2 linked regions of the Homo sapiens genome follow. The protein of the gene in region 1 purifies or fractionates together with the protein of each later gene. This does not show direct contact. Each region holds a gene or a part of one and is shown on either strand. Other genes may lie near its edges.

Evidence for each region. Proteins that work in one complex are often made in the same cells at the same time.
Region 2: the proteins of PDLIM1 (region 1) and NUDT12 purify together in Homo sapiens (affinity purification with mass spectrometry; 3 studies listed by BioGRID and IntAct, with this or other methods). This does not show direct contact.

What each region holds. Positions count from the first base shown.
Region 1 is NC_000010.11:95,239,002-95,246,232, reverse strand, and holds part of PDLIM1 (PDZ and LIM domain protein 1), read left to right. Parts: intron 1-7,231. UniProt on the Homo sapiens protein: Cytoskeletal protein that may act as an adapter that brings other proteins (like kinases) to the cytoskeleton. Involved in assembly, disassembly and directioning of stress fibers in fibroblasts.
Region 2 is NC_000005.10:103,559,605-103,566,878, forward strand, and holds the start of NUDT12 (NAD-capped RNA hydrolase NUDT12), read right to left. Parts: upstream 3,186-7,274; 5' UTR 3,099-3,185; intron 651-3,098; 5' UTR 645-650; coding exon 439-644; intron 1-438. UniProt on the Homo sapiens protein: mRNA decapping enzyme that specifically removes the nicotinamide adenine dinucleotide (NAD) cap from a subset of mRNAs by hydrolyzing the diphosphate linkage to produce nicotinamide mononucleotide (NMN) and 5' monophosphate mRNA.

The DNA of each region.
Region 1 (7,231 bases):
TTCCTCATCAGCACCTCCTGTGATGCTCATGGGCAGTCTTTTCCAGAGAGCTGGGTTTTGTACCCTTTCCTGGTCCCTGTGATGCCCAGTCCTCCACACTCTCTCTTCCTTTCTTGAGGCTTGGGCACTTCAGTGGGGTCTTGTTTTCTATGCCCTCTATCTCTCTCATGGACCCATCTGCAAAGAGACAGTGGATGCTCCAGTGAGGGGACACCTTGTGATGGTGAGTGTGAGACCTGCCTCAGCCAGGCTGCAAAGGGATTGGCATGTTGGCTGAGAGGCTTGTGCCCTCTGGAAGATGAACCTCCCTCCTCAAAGTCCGCAGCCGAAGATTCAGCTTCCTGGGGAGCCCTTTCTGATAAGAAAGTTCTCTTCTGAACACACCCGACACCTGGGCTTCCTCCCCATTTGTGTGATTTCTTTAGAGAGAGTGGCAGTTTACAACCATAGGAAATTAGGAAACCATGGGCCATGTGTTTGCATGTGCTTCTTTTATGCTAAAATGATACTGTTCTACCACTGCTTTCCTCTTTTGCTTGGAGTAGCTGAGCAGCTGGGAAGTAATGAGCCATACTTCGTATCAAGTTCCAGTATTAGCTTTGCCTGACAAACAACTTGGGGGCCAACCCTTGAGGATGATAGCTTTGTAAAAACATGTGAGAAACCACAACTTATTTCACTCTTACGTGGATGTGAAACCCTTCAATGAGAGGCAAGGTCAAGTTCATCCGTGCCCAACTAGACATGCTGCAGAGCTCATCTCAGCTCACAGAGAAGGACCTGAGCATGGATTTGGAAGCTCCATGCTCTTCAAGATCTGGACTCCTATCCGGCACTCCAGCACCCAAATTTGTGGCTTCTATTCCCAAGGTTACTTCGTGGTCCTGGTTAGCAGCTGGTGTTCCAACCATCATGCTTACCCCCAGGTGACAGGGAGGAAGAAGGGAGATAATGCTAACCGGGGAGTTCCAATTTCAGATGAGCCAGCTTTCTCCTTCCCAGAAGTCCCACACTACTCTTCCATTTTATTGACCATGATTTAGTCACCTGGCTACACCTAGTTAAACGAGAGTCTGGGAATTAGGATTCTTTTTAAAAAAAATTTTAGCCCTTAGTCTGGATGGTTCTTGCCCCAAAGAGAATCAAGATTCTGCTGGAAGGGAAGAGGGAGATAGCAAATCTTGTAGTTTCTCCTGTATCTCTTACTGTGTACCCGCATTAAATCTTTACTGACAGTAACAGGATAAATTCCATTCTAAACATTCTTTACATGCAGAAGGCTCTTCGGGGAAGGAACCCAAATGCCTGTTTGTTTTTGTTTTTGTTTTTGTTTGAGACAGGGTCTTGCTCTGTTGCCCAGGCTGGAGTGCAGTGGCATGATCTCGGCTCACTGCTACCTCCGCTTCTCAGGTTGCAGCGATTCTCCTGCCTCAGCCTCCCAAGTATCTGAGATTACAGATGTGTACCACCATGCCCAGATAATTTTTGTATTTTTAATAGAGATGGGGTTTCTCCATGTTGGCCAGGGTGGTCTTGAACTTGTGACCTCAGGTGATCTGCCCACCTGGACCTCCCAAAGCGCTGGGATTACAGATGTGAGCCACTGCACCCGGCCCCAAATGCCTGTTTTTATTTGAGATAAAATGGTGAAAGGTTAAGGTAGTAAAAGCAGTTGATGAGAGGTCCTGTCATTCAGAAACGCCTCTGGTTCAGAAAGCAGTGCTGCAGGGCAGAAAGAGCACTGGCATCCAGGATCTGCCTCTGACCTGCTGTGACACCTCCAGCAAGTTGCTTGCCTTTCTAAGCTCTAGTTTCTGCACAGATCCATTGAAGCTAATAGCCAGGACCTCATGGGATTGTTTACAGGGTTAAGTAAAGCCACGTCTGTAAACTGCCAGGTGCACAGTGAGTAAGGCCCCTCCCTGAAGGAAGCTTGGCTACAGCAGTATTTGGTCATAAACCTTGAAGACCCAACACAAGCTGTCTCATTTTGGGTAAAATTCAGCTTCTAGACTAGGAGAAAGGGGCCCTTGGTTCCTCACCTTCATCTTGTTCTGGATCAAATTCCAAAACTTGCAGGCAGAAGAAGCCGTTATATTAAGAAAAATGGTGAAATATACTTAATATAAAATTTACCATCTTAACAAATTTTAAGTGTACAATTTAGTGGTATTAAGTACATTTATGTGATTGTGCTACTATCACCACCATCCATCCATAGAACTCTTTTATTTTGCAAAACTGAAACTATTCCCATTAAAGAGTATTTCACCATTCCTCTCTCCTTCCAGCTCCTGGTAACCACCCTCCTGCTTGTCTCTATGAATTTGACTACTCTAAATACCTTGTATAAGTGGTGTCATGCAGTAGTTGTCCTTTTGGTCCTGGCTTAGTTCACTTAGCTTAATATCCTCGGGGTTCATCCATGTAGCATGTGTCAGAAATTCTTTCCATTTTAAGGCAGAGTATTATTCCGTTGTTTGTGTATATTACATTTTATTTATCCATTCATCTGTCCATTGAAGGAGACTTTCAATGATTGGAGGTTTGGAAGGAGCAGTCATGGGCTGAGAAAACACAGTGGTGGCCAGAGGCTCTGAGATGAGAAAACTGGAGACTAGTTCAGCAAGTACCGAGGCTCGTTTTGGCTGGTTACCCAGGGTTCCAGGTGAATCCTTGGGTGATCTCGAGTTAGATATGGGGGACCACCAGGTGCAAGGTTAAGAATCATGAGCTTGATTCTAAAGGTAGTGTGAAGTCATGCAAGGTTGTTGAGCAGTGAAGTGGACAGAAAAACAGCTGTGGTTTATTTAGCTAATTTTCACTTTTTTTCCAGAAATATTTGGGATACAGGGTTCACTGTAAGAAGAGAAATTTGGAAATTTTTGTAGTTGCCTGGAGTTCAAAGGAAGCTAGTATTTTCACTATAAGCTAGTTGAGAAGAAAGGAAGAGAGATTTCTCTGGATTCGCAGTGTTGGCTGGATATGTGAGAGAAAAAACCTTGAAGCCAACAGGTGGCACTGTAGGGCTGAACAGGCCACAGTGAGTCTTCTGTTGGGCAGGCAGCCTTCTCCCCCAAGCTGTGCCCAGTTTTATCCAGGTCAGGTCTCTTCATTCTAGAAAAAGATGTGGATTCTCCTACCTAATGGAGATTTCATGTCCCTCCTGGCTTTTTCTCATTCTACCCTTTTGCAGCCTCTCTTCTTTCCTGGTGATTTTTCTATGGATTGAGTGGATTCCAGGTCTTTAAGTGTGAAATGTGAAAAGCCCATTGCATAAGAGAGCCCGACCTCATTGAGCTGGTTCTCAGCCCAATCAGTGCCTTTGCAAACTGCCCAGGTATGTAGAGATGCTGCCATTTCCTTCTTGTCATGGGCAGGCAGCCAGATGGCTTCATCAGCCAGAAAATGAGGGAATCCGTTTGGGATGCTTGAGGCATGATGCTTAGAGAAGATGCCCACCCAGGCCCTTCTGAGATCCCTCTAGGAAGGGCCAGGATCAGGGTGAGGTGAGGGAGGCACTGCTTTGAGGGCAGAATTTTTTTTTTTTTTTTGAGACCTCTGTCGCCTAGGTTTGGAGTGCAGTGGCGTGATCTCGTCTCACTGCAACCTCCGCCTCCCGGGTTCAAGCCATTCTCCTGCCTCAGCCTCCCAAGTAGCTGGGACTACAGGCACGTCCCACAATGCCCGGCTAGTTTCTGTATTGTTAGTAGAGATGGGGTTTCACCATGTTGGCCAGGCTGGTCTCGAACTCCTGACCTCAAGTGATCTGCCCGCCTTGGTCTTCCAAAGTGCTGGGGATTACAGGCATGAGCCACTGCGCCCGGCCTTGAGTGCAGAATTTAAGGGGGCACTGGAAAACTCAATAATCATGAAAAAAAATGACATTTAAATGCAATATTAAAAAAATTAATACAGGTAAAATATATGGTGAACAAAGTTGGAACTTTGGCCTCCTCCCAAAGGAAGGGAGGAAGGCTTGGGAAGGGCAAGAAGTTGCCCTAGGCTCGGGGAGAACAGAAGCACCAAGGTGGTTTCTCCTTATGCACCTGCTGGTGGGGCAGAACTGAGTCTTCCCCAAGCCCATCTGTAGAGCTCACCACTTAAAACCATGGAGCCTCCTAATCTCAGCCCCATCTCATGTGCTGCCAGGTGGACATCTGTGTGCATCGGTTCCCAGCGATGAATAGTCCCAGCTCTGAGGGGGGAAGCCTAAGTCTGAGCCATGGCAGCATGATAGGGCTATTGAGAGTTCAGGCTGCATTCACATATACCCTCTTGTTGTTCCCCATAAGCCAGCCAAGTACCCCAAACCATCTCTCATATTGTATTATTCAGCAGTGGGTAATCTGTATTTATGAGGGCTACCGGATAGCTGTGGCTCTGCTGGGCTTGGCAGGGCTGGACCAGGCCCCGAGTCCTCTCATTCAAGCCCAGGGAAGGGAGAGGCACTCTGGTGCTTGCTGTTTTCATGGCAGAGGCAATACCTCTGTGGGAACAGGGCCAAACCACACAAGTGCCCTTAGTGCTTTTGCCTGTATAAGGCTCACATCTGCTCACGTTGGCTAAAGTCAGGATGGGGAAGTCTACTCCATCGAGAGCAGGGTTTCTCAGCCTTGGTGCTATTGACATTTTGGGCCATATGAGTCCTTGTTGTGGGGCTGCCCTGTGTATTTTGGGATGTTCAGCAGCATCCCTGACCTCTGCCCACTAGACGCCAGTGGCATCCCCTTTCACTGTGACAATCGAAACTGCTCTCTAGGAGACAAAACTGCCCCCAGTAGGGAACCACTGACTGGAGGTAAGCATGGCAAGAGAGGGGCGGGGTAATTGTGGTCAAAATACAGTCAACCATGTATTCTAAATGCCCCTTGTTGCCAGGCACAGTGGCTACTGGAGAAGCTCTGGTGGGAGGATCGCTGGAGGGCAGGACTTTGAGACACAACATAGCGAGATGCTATCTCTAATCAGTAAAAATAAACAATTAATAAATGTCCATTGTGTGAACATGTGTCTCAATTTTTGGTTCGGAAGGATTGGTCAGCATACAGGGACTCACTTTCTGAAAGAACAAGAGAGCTAAGGCCCTTGTCTGTCAGCCCCGCGATTGCCCGACGTGACTGCAGTCATGGGGTGACCCTCTCTTCATCCCCTCACCTGGCACAGGAAGCTGTTTCTTTGCTCTTGTCCAGTGGTTCTTGGATCAGTGGCGCCTGGGAACTTGTTGGAAATGCAGTCTTAGGCCCCATCCTGGGCCTTCTGGCTCAGAAACTCTGGGGGTGGGGCCCAGCAATCTGTGTGTTAACAAGGCCTCCAGGTGATTTTTACCATTATTAATAGCTACCATGGTACAGGGCTTTGTTACCTAAGATGTGATGAGTGGGGCCTTAGGCAGCTCAGCATCTAGCTACTAGGGGCTTATTTTACACGCACCAGGCTGACTACAGAAAGGCTCCTTCCTCTGCTCTGTAGGAGATGATTGTTATCTGCCTGCTGTAGCATGCTGTATTCTGATGGTTTTGTTCTATCTGTGATGTGGATTTCTTTTCTAAGAACTTTATTTATTTTTAAATTTCCAACATTTAAGTTCAGGGGTACATGTGTAGGATGCACAGGTTTGTTACATAGGTAATGACGTGCCATGGTGGTTTGCTGCACAGATCATCCCATCACCTAGATATTAAGCCCAGCATCCATCAGCCATTCTTCCAGATGTTCTCCTTCCCCCACTCCCCACCATCTGACAGGCCCTAGTGTGTCTTGTCCCTCCACCATGTGTCCATCTGTTCTCATCATTCAGCTCCCACTTACAAGTGAGAATATGTGGTATTTGGTTTTGTGTTCCTGCATTAGTTTGCTGAGGGTAATGGCTTCCAGTTCCATCCATGTCCCTGCAAAGGACAAGATCTCGTTCCTTTTTATGGCTGCATAGTATTCCCTGGTGTATACGTACCACATTTTCTTTATCCAGTCTATCATTGATGGGAATTTAGGTTGATTCCATGTCTTTGCTATCATGAATAGTGAGTGCTGTGATGAACGTAAGAGTGCATGTATTTTCATGATAGAATGATTTATATTCCTTTGGGTATACATCCAGTAATGGGATTGCTGGGCTGAATGGTATTTGTGCTTCTAGGTCTTTGAGGACTCACCACACTGTCTTCCACAATGTTTGAACTAATTTACATCCCAACAGTGTGAAAGCGTTCTTTTTTCTCCACAACCTTGCCAGCATCTGTTGTTTTTTTACTTTTTAATAATAGCCATTCAGACTGGCGTGAGTCGGTATCTCATTGTGGTTTTGATTTGTATTTCTCTAATGATCAGTGATGTCGAGCTTTTTTTCATGTTTGTTGGCCGCATGTATGTCTTTTGAAAACTGTCTGTTCATGTTCTTTGCCCACTTTTTAATGGGGTTATTTTTTTCTTTTATTGAGATGGAGTCTCGCTCTGTTGCCCAGGCTGGAGTGCAGTGGCACAATCTCAGCCCATTGCAACCTCCGCCTCCTGGGTTCAAGTGATTCTCTTGCCTCAGCCTCCTGAGTAGCTGGAACTATAGGTGCATGCCACCACACCTGGCTAATTTTTGTAATTTTAGTAGAGAGGGGGTTTGGCTATGTTGGCCAGGCTATTCTCAAATTCCTGACCTCAGGTGATCCACCCACCTCGGCCTCCCAAAGTGTTGGGATTACAGAAGTGAGCTACTGTGCCCGGCTTATTTTTTTCTTGTAAATTTGTTTTAAGTTCCTTGCAGATGCTGGATATTAGACCTTTGTCAGATGGATAGATTGCAAAAATTTTCTCGCATTCTGTGGGTTGTCTCTTCATTTTGATGATAGTTTCTTTTGCTGTGCAGAAGCTCTTTAGTTTAATTAGATCCCATTTGTCAATTTTTGCTTTTGTTACAATTGCTTTTCGGGTTTTCATCATGAAATCTTTGCCCATGCCCATGTCCTGAATGGTATTGCCTAGATTTTCTTGTAGTGTTTTTATAGTTTTGGGCTTTACATTTAAGTCTTTAATCCATCTTGAGCTGATTTTTATATATGGTGTAAAGAAGGGATCCAGTTTCAATTTTCTGCATATGGCTAGCCAGGTCTCCCAGCACCATTTATTAAATAGGGAATCCTTTCTTCATTGCTTGTTTTTGTCAGGTTTGTCAAAGATCAGATGGTTGTGGGTGTGTGGTCTCGTTTCTGGGTTCTCTGTTCTCTGTTCTTCTACCAGT
Region 2 (7,274 bases), on another chromosome or scaffold:
TGTTACATAGTTTACTATTGGGAAGGTTAAAAGAACAATCATAAATGACAAAAAGTTAAGAGACAGTGGATACTTACACTTTCTGGATAATTACTCACAAAATAAAACAGTATTAAGCTTTATGCACTATAAAGAGATACCAAAATTCTACAAGAAGTCCTTGGTAGTCATAGTGAGATCTGCATTTTCTATTTGGGAGGAAAATTTATAATTAGACTCCTCATAAATTTGCTTTGCTATAAAGAAATAATTTCTCAATGAAAAAGGTTACAAAGTTTTAAGTTAGAAAAATTGTGCTACATTTTTACATAAATTAGCCAATGAGTTATTTAGTAGTTCAACAATATAAATATGGAAACAAGCAAAATTTTAAAGTAAATATGTAACAAAGAAATTAAACCACAAACCCTTTCAGGTGGTACAGCCTAAAATGTTTACCCTTTCTCAAGCAGAAATTGGACTATCTCTGGGTGCCCATTCCTTGCCGCATACATTAAAGCAGTCCAGCCATTTTCAGAAGTTTCATTGAGAAGAGATGGAGAATGACTGAGTATTCCTGTTAACTTGGCAATATCTCCTTCAGCAGCTGAACAGTGAAACTGAGTAACTATTTCTTGCTTCAGACTTCTTTTTACAGAAGACATTTCTTCCTTAAAAGAAGGAAAATCAGGGGAAAAAGCTTATTTGCAACTGCTTTTTTATCAATGAACAATATTGATAAATAGCAATAGAATAATAGCAATGGTTTCCAAGGCAACATACTATTCAACAGGCAATCCTTAAACAGCATACATTTCAATTTCAAAATGTTATCAGTTTAGAATTATAAAATGCAACGCAATTTATATGCCCATGGGAGTTACACAAAATAATGAATAAAGAGCTCTGACAGTACAGACGAGGGGGCCATATCCTTGGGAGGGGGAACCAGGTAACATATTACATAAGGAGGAGGTATTTAGGGTAGACCAGAGGGGACTTCACGATGGGTGGGGACATGAGGGGGAGAGCATTAAAACAGATGGAAGTAAAGGCAGAGACTTTATAAGTTTCACAGGAAAACAGTTTATTGTTTGACCTTGCACAATTAATTCTGTAATCCATCTAGGATCTATTTTTGTTCATGGCATGAGGTAGGGGTCAAGATACTTTTTTACCCAATGCATAATCCATATTACTCCGTATTATTCTTGAAATTACCATCTTTGTCCTACTACACTGAGACAAATATTGTCACAAATCAGATGATCATATATTTTTGGTTCTATTATTGGACAGTTCTGTTGGTCACTTTGTTGTCCTTGAATCAGAGCAGCTTTTAAAACTCATTAACTTTATCTGCTTTGTCACCTTTTTGTTTCGGTGGGGTAAACCCTGAAATAATTGTTCCATACCTCTTAAATATTGCCTAATCATGGACTGCAGATGATAGAGCACACACTGAGCTTTTTTTGTCTTTTTTTTTTTTTGGCGGCGGGGGATGGTGAAAATGGTTCATGATTCAACTGTCTGTGAACTTCTCAAAGTATTTTTTTTTAAGGTATAATTCTTCTTTCTATGAAATGCTATTAAGAAAAGATTTGGGATTCTAACAACATTTCTATCATTCTAAGCAATAAGATTTTTAAGCTAAAAAGACAGAAAGGTTATAGCCCATAGTTTTTGATAGCTGCTGTCTCCTGGGTTCTGAAAGGGCGATCTGGCTGATGAATTGCATAGCAGGAATAGTATGAACAAAATTTAGGGAAAACAAGGAGTAAAGATTAATTGTCTCATTTTGGAGCTGTTCACCTTTCCTATTTGTGTCTTTCTGCTACTTATAAATAGGTTAAAACTGCTCACAGTCATGGAAACACTTGGATGAAACCTAACAGTGGAAATCTGTTTAGAAATTAAATTACCAGAAGTAATATCTACATGACAGAATAATTTTTGATTTATTCTAGAATTTACTTCGCTGTTCCTTTCATATTGAAATTTCTACATACGTTAAAAATACTATGCATAACAAAAGCTACAAATTTTCAGGACTTTATTTTGAAGCACTGCTGTACAGCTCCTGTACTGATCTCCCTTCCAAATTGTCTTTCTCTTAAGTTTATTTTCCAAAAACCCATATTATAGTTTTTTCAGCTAGGTTTAGTTTGAATAATATTTCACTGTCTCATGTTCTGGGGTCACCGTCACTCCCTCACATTCTCACAGGCCGCGCCAGGTAACTGCAAAATTGTCCTTCAAAAATACAGCGTCATTCACTACCTCCAGGGCAATGCTTATGCATATGCTATTCTGTGGAGATGGGAAGTGGAAAGTGTACACTTTTCCCTCTAGCTTTCTCAGCAGAAAAGCCATCTAGAAATAGTACCATTATTCATTCCAGAGAAGCACATAAAGTCTAACACCCAATTCTACTGTTTGATTTACTTTTTCAATTCTCATTGACAGGTTATAGAAGGTAAAGATTTGAAGGCAGAATAAAGTGCTGCCCTTGTTTTCCAAGAAGCTCAAGGACTATTCCGAGAAATCATTTAAAAGAATATTAGATGTAAAGGGACATAAATTTTTAACAAACCAACATCCACTTTTACTGACATGTAACCCGGGGCCCATGACTTCCGCATGCTCACACAGACCGAATGGGACAGGACAGGACCTTAAATATCGCTCTGTCACTGAAATCACTGACCATCAATTAACGAATTTCATCCACTCCCTGGGCACTCAAGACCAATTAAGTGCCACCCGTGCACGGTCTCTGAAAATGGTAAAATGCCTTAAGATATTTTACTTTCTTGCCACTACTGTGAGATTCCTTCTTTCGAGGTGAAATCACACCCTAAGTAGCGCTTCCTTTTCCCCATCTCAGCTTGGGCAGGAAACTCTACGACCTCAGTACCGCCGCACCTCCGCCCTGTCGCGGGAGCCCCTGCAAATGCGTCCGTGGCTCCCGCGCCTGCGCCCACCAAACCACTACGAGGCTCCGCCACACAACTCAGCAGGGCCACGCAGGGCAGCGCGGGAACCAAAGAGCCCAGGGAAGTGGTCACCGCCCCCAGAGGAGGCAATGAGACGACTAACTCCCCACTGCTTCTACTAACCCAAAGGTGACCACAGTAGAGGCAACCAGGATGCAGTCCAAAGATTGGGATATCCCACTCGCTTTTCCTGGAGCCGGATGCAGTCTTCCCGACTTCCGGTGGAGATCCGGGGGTGGGGGGGGGGCGGGAGGGGGGCCCCCGCGGTTTTATGGGAGATGTAGTTTGAAGCCCACAGGTTGTGCGCAAGGGAGAAGGGGTGGAGATTGGGGGTGGAAGTGTTTGGGAGCCGGCGCGGGAGAGATCGCGGTCTAAAGGATTGGAGCTGAATGAAGGGCTGAAAATCCTTCTCCTGAGACTGTGATGTGTAGATAGAACGTGGTGCAGGCGATCGGAAAACTGTAGGCCTAAGGAAACGATTTTAAATTTTCCAGCGTCTCCCACCCAACTCCTAGCCCTCTCTCCAATACAGTCCAATGCAATTGAGTGCTCAAAGCATTCTTTCCTGTTAAATAATCCTGGACTATTGACTAGACCAAGTCACTCTTAAACGAGATATTCGGCCTCTGTAACACCTTAATCATTCACCCCATGGGAAAACTGGTATCATATACTGACGCCTAACTTATTCAGTAGTCCTTTAAAAAGTATGTATCAAGCGCGCAAAACACCTCCTTGGGTTGTGAGGTGTAAATAGGATAATGTATCCAAAGCTCTTAGGATGTTGTGAAGTGCAGAGTGGGCACCCACAACAAAATTATTGTCGTTATTTTTTATTTCAGTTCCTGTGCTTTTATGCTCCAAAACCTACAGAAGTTATGAGTCCGAGATTACAAAACTAGGTGTTGGCGGTCTTCTAACTTCCAGACCAGGGCTTTTTCCTTTACTAAACTCTCTCCTTGGTAATCAGCAACAGCTACAGGGGTCTCTTACAATTGATCACTGTTTCCCACCCAGATTTTACCCTTGGAAGCTCCTTCTCACTGTGAAGCTGTATGCACCAGTTGACATTGATCATGAGGGCTTCTAACGCCCTGTGCTGCTGTTTTTTTTTTTTTTTTCTTTTTTTTAGATGGGTTCTCACTCTGTCACCCAGGCTGGAGTGCAGTAGTGCGATCTTGGCTCACTGCAACCTCCGCCTCCCGGGGTTTCAAGTGATTCTCCTGCCTCAGTCTCCCGAGTAGCTGGGATTACAGGTGTGCGCCACCAGGCCCAGCTAATTTTTGTATTTTTAGTAGAGACAGGTTTTTGCCATGTTGGCCAGGCTGGTCTGGAACTCCTGACCTCAGGTGATCCATCCGCCTTGGCCTCCCAAAGTGCTGGGATTACAGGCGCGAGCCACTGCACCCGGCCGCCCTATGCTTCTTTATGTGACTAGTTGTTTTCAGCCTTTAATGATTTCAGTGACCAGACAGGTGGTCAGAAAGGATTAGTTACTTCACTTGGAGTACCCAATCTTTGCATTCAAACATATGTTAGATTAGTATAGTGAACCCTCGTGTATTAATGATCCAGAGTCAACAACTATTAATATATAGTTCTCCCAGTTGTTAGGATTGTTTTGAAGTAAATTCCAGACCCCATATTGTTTTGATGACAAATATTTAAGAGTAAACTTTTTGGAAATATGTATTATATCTAAAATATAAGGGCTTTGAAAAACAACACAACTTCAATATCCCTAGTATTACAAATTTAACAATAATTCTGTAATAACATAAAAGAAACATTCAATATCAAATTTACTCACTTGCCTCAGAAGTTTTATATGTTTTTCAGTTGATTCATCTGAACAAAGTCTCCACATCACATTTGATTTTTAAAAATCTATGGATTCCTTCCTCTTCCCCTTTTTTTCTGGCAGTTTATTTACTAAAGAGTAATGATCATTTGTTCTGTAGAATTTTCCACATTCTGAATTTTGCAGATTTTATTCCTGTGCTGTCCTTTCCCCCTGTATTTCTTGCAAACTGGTAGTTAACTTTATAGAATTACTCAGATTAAAGTTTGATTTTTTTTCACAAAAGACTTTATAGGTGTTACAGTTTACTTTGTATTGAATTACTTCAAGAGGCTTACAACTTCTGGTTGTCTCTCTTTTTTTAATGTTATACTTGATCATTGGGTTCAGATGTTGTCAACCTGATAACATGTATGATAAATAATAATATAAATATTATAAAAATATGGTAAATGTTTATGATAAATATATGACATTGATATATAATTATGATAAATATAATTATATTATTTAAATATTAAATTTATGATAAATATATTATAAATTTTTCCATCAACTTTTCAGCTAATAGTTTTAGCAGCCATTCATGATTATTGCCTGCATCCATCATTTTGTTATGAGTTGCAAATAGTGATATTCTAATTTGATATTCACTCTACATTTACTAACAAATTATTTTATAATAAAGAACTTCATCTAATTAAATATCTATACAGCTTATATGGAAAGATAGGATAAATGTGCGATTTTCACCATTATTTCCTAATCTTCAGAATAATTAGTTAGTTCCCTAATATCCTTCAGGTAAGTATACAAACGTGCCTTGTTTTATTGCACTTTGCTTTACTGTACTTCACAGATAGTACATTTTTTACAAATTGAAGGTTTATGACAACCTTGTGGCAAGCAAGTATATAGGTGCCACTTTTCCAACAACGTGTTCACTTTGTATGTCTATCACATTTTGTAATTCTTGCAATATTTCACACTTTTTCATTATTATATCTGTTATGGTGATCTGTGATCAGTAATCTTTGATGTTACTATTGTAATTGTTTTGGATTGCCACAAACTGCACCCATATAAGTTGGCAAACATAATCAATACACGTTGTGTGTGTTCTCACTGCTCCATCCACTGGCTATTCTTATCTCTCTCCCTCTCCTCAGGCCTCCCTATTCCCTGAGATACAGCAATATTGAAATTAGGCCAATTAATAACCCTACAGTGGCCCCTAAGTGTTCAAGTGAAAGGAAGACGCACACATCTCTCACACATTTTAAATCAGAAGCTGGAAATTATTAAGCTTAGTAAGAAAGGCATGTCAAAAGACAAGACAGGCCAAAAGCAAAGCCCCTTGCACCAAAGAGTTAGCCAAGTTATAAAGGCAAAGGAAAAGTTCTTGAAGGAAATTAAAAGTACTACTCCAGTGAACACATGAATGGTAAGAAAGTGAAACAGCTTTATTGCTGATATGGAGAAGGTTTTAGTGGTCTGGGTGGAAGATTAAACCAGGCATAATATTTCCTTAAGCCAAAGCTTTATCCAGAGCAAAGTCCTAACTCTCTTCAGTTGTATGAAGACCGAGAGAAGTGAGGAAACTGCAGAAGAAAAGTCGGCATCTAGCAGAGGTTGGTTCATGAGGTTTAAGGAAAAAAGCCTCCTTCATGACATAAAAGTGCAAGTTGAAGGAGCAAGTGGCGATGGAGACGCTGCAGCAAGTTACCCAGAAGATCTTGCTAAGAGAATTGATGAAGGCAGCTAAACTAAACAGCAGACTTTGAATGTAGAAAAAAACAGCCACCTATTGGAAGAAGATGCCGCCCATGACATCCATATCAAGAGGTGACAAATCAATGCCTGGCTTCAAAACCTCAAAAGACAGGCAGACTCACTTATTAGGGACTAATGCAACTGGTGACTTGAAGTTGAAGCCAATACTCACAATTTTGAAAATCCTAGGGCCCTTAAGAATTATGGTAAGTCTACCCTGCCTGTGCTCTCTAAATGGAGCAACAAAGCCTGAATGACAGCACATCTGTTTAGAGAGTGGTTTACTGAATAAGCCTACCGTGGCCACCTACTGCTCAGAAGAAAAGTTTCCTTTCAGGGCCAGGCGCGGTGGCTCACACCTGTAATCCCAGCACTTTGGGAGCCCGAGGCGGACGGATCATGAGGTCAAGAGATGAAGACCATCTTGGCTAACACAGTGAAACCCTGTCGCTACTAAAAAAAAAATAAAAAAAGTAGCCGGGCATGGTAGCGGGCACCTGAAGTTGCAGCTACTCAGGAGGCTGAGGCAGGAGAATGAGGCTGAGGCAGGAGAATGGCGCAAACCCAGGAGGCAGAAGTTGCAGTGAGCCAAGAGATCGCACCACTGCACTCCAGCCTGGGTGACAGAGCGAGACTCTGTCTCAGAAAAAAAAAAAAAAAAAAAAAAAAAAAAAGATTCCTTTCAAAATATTACTGTTAATTGATAATGTATCTGGTCACTGAAG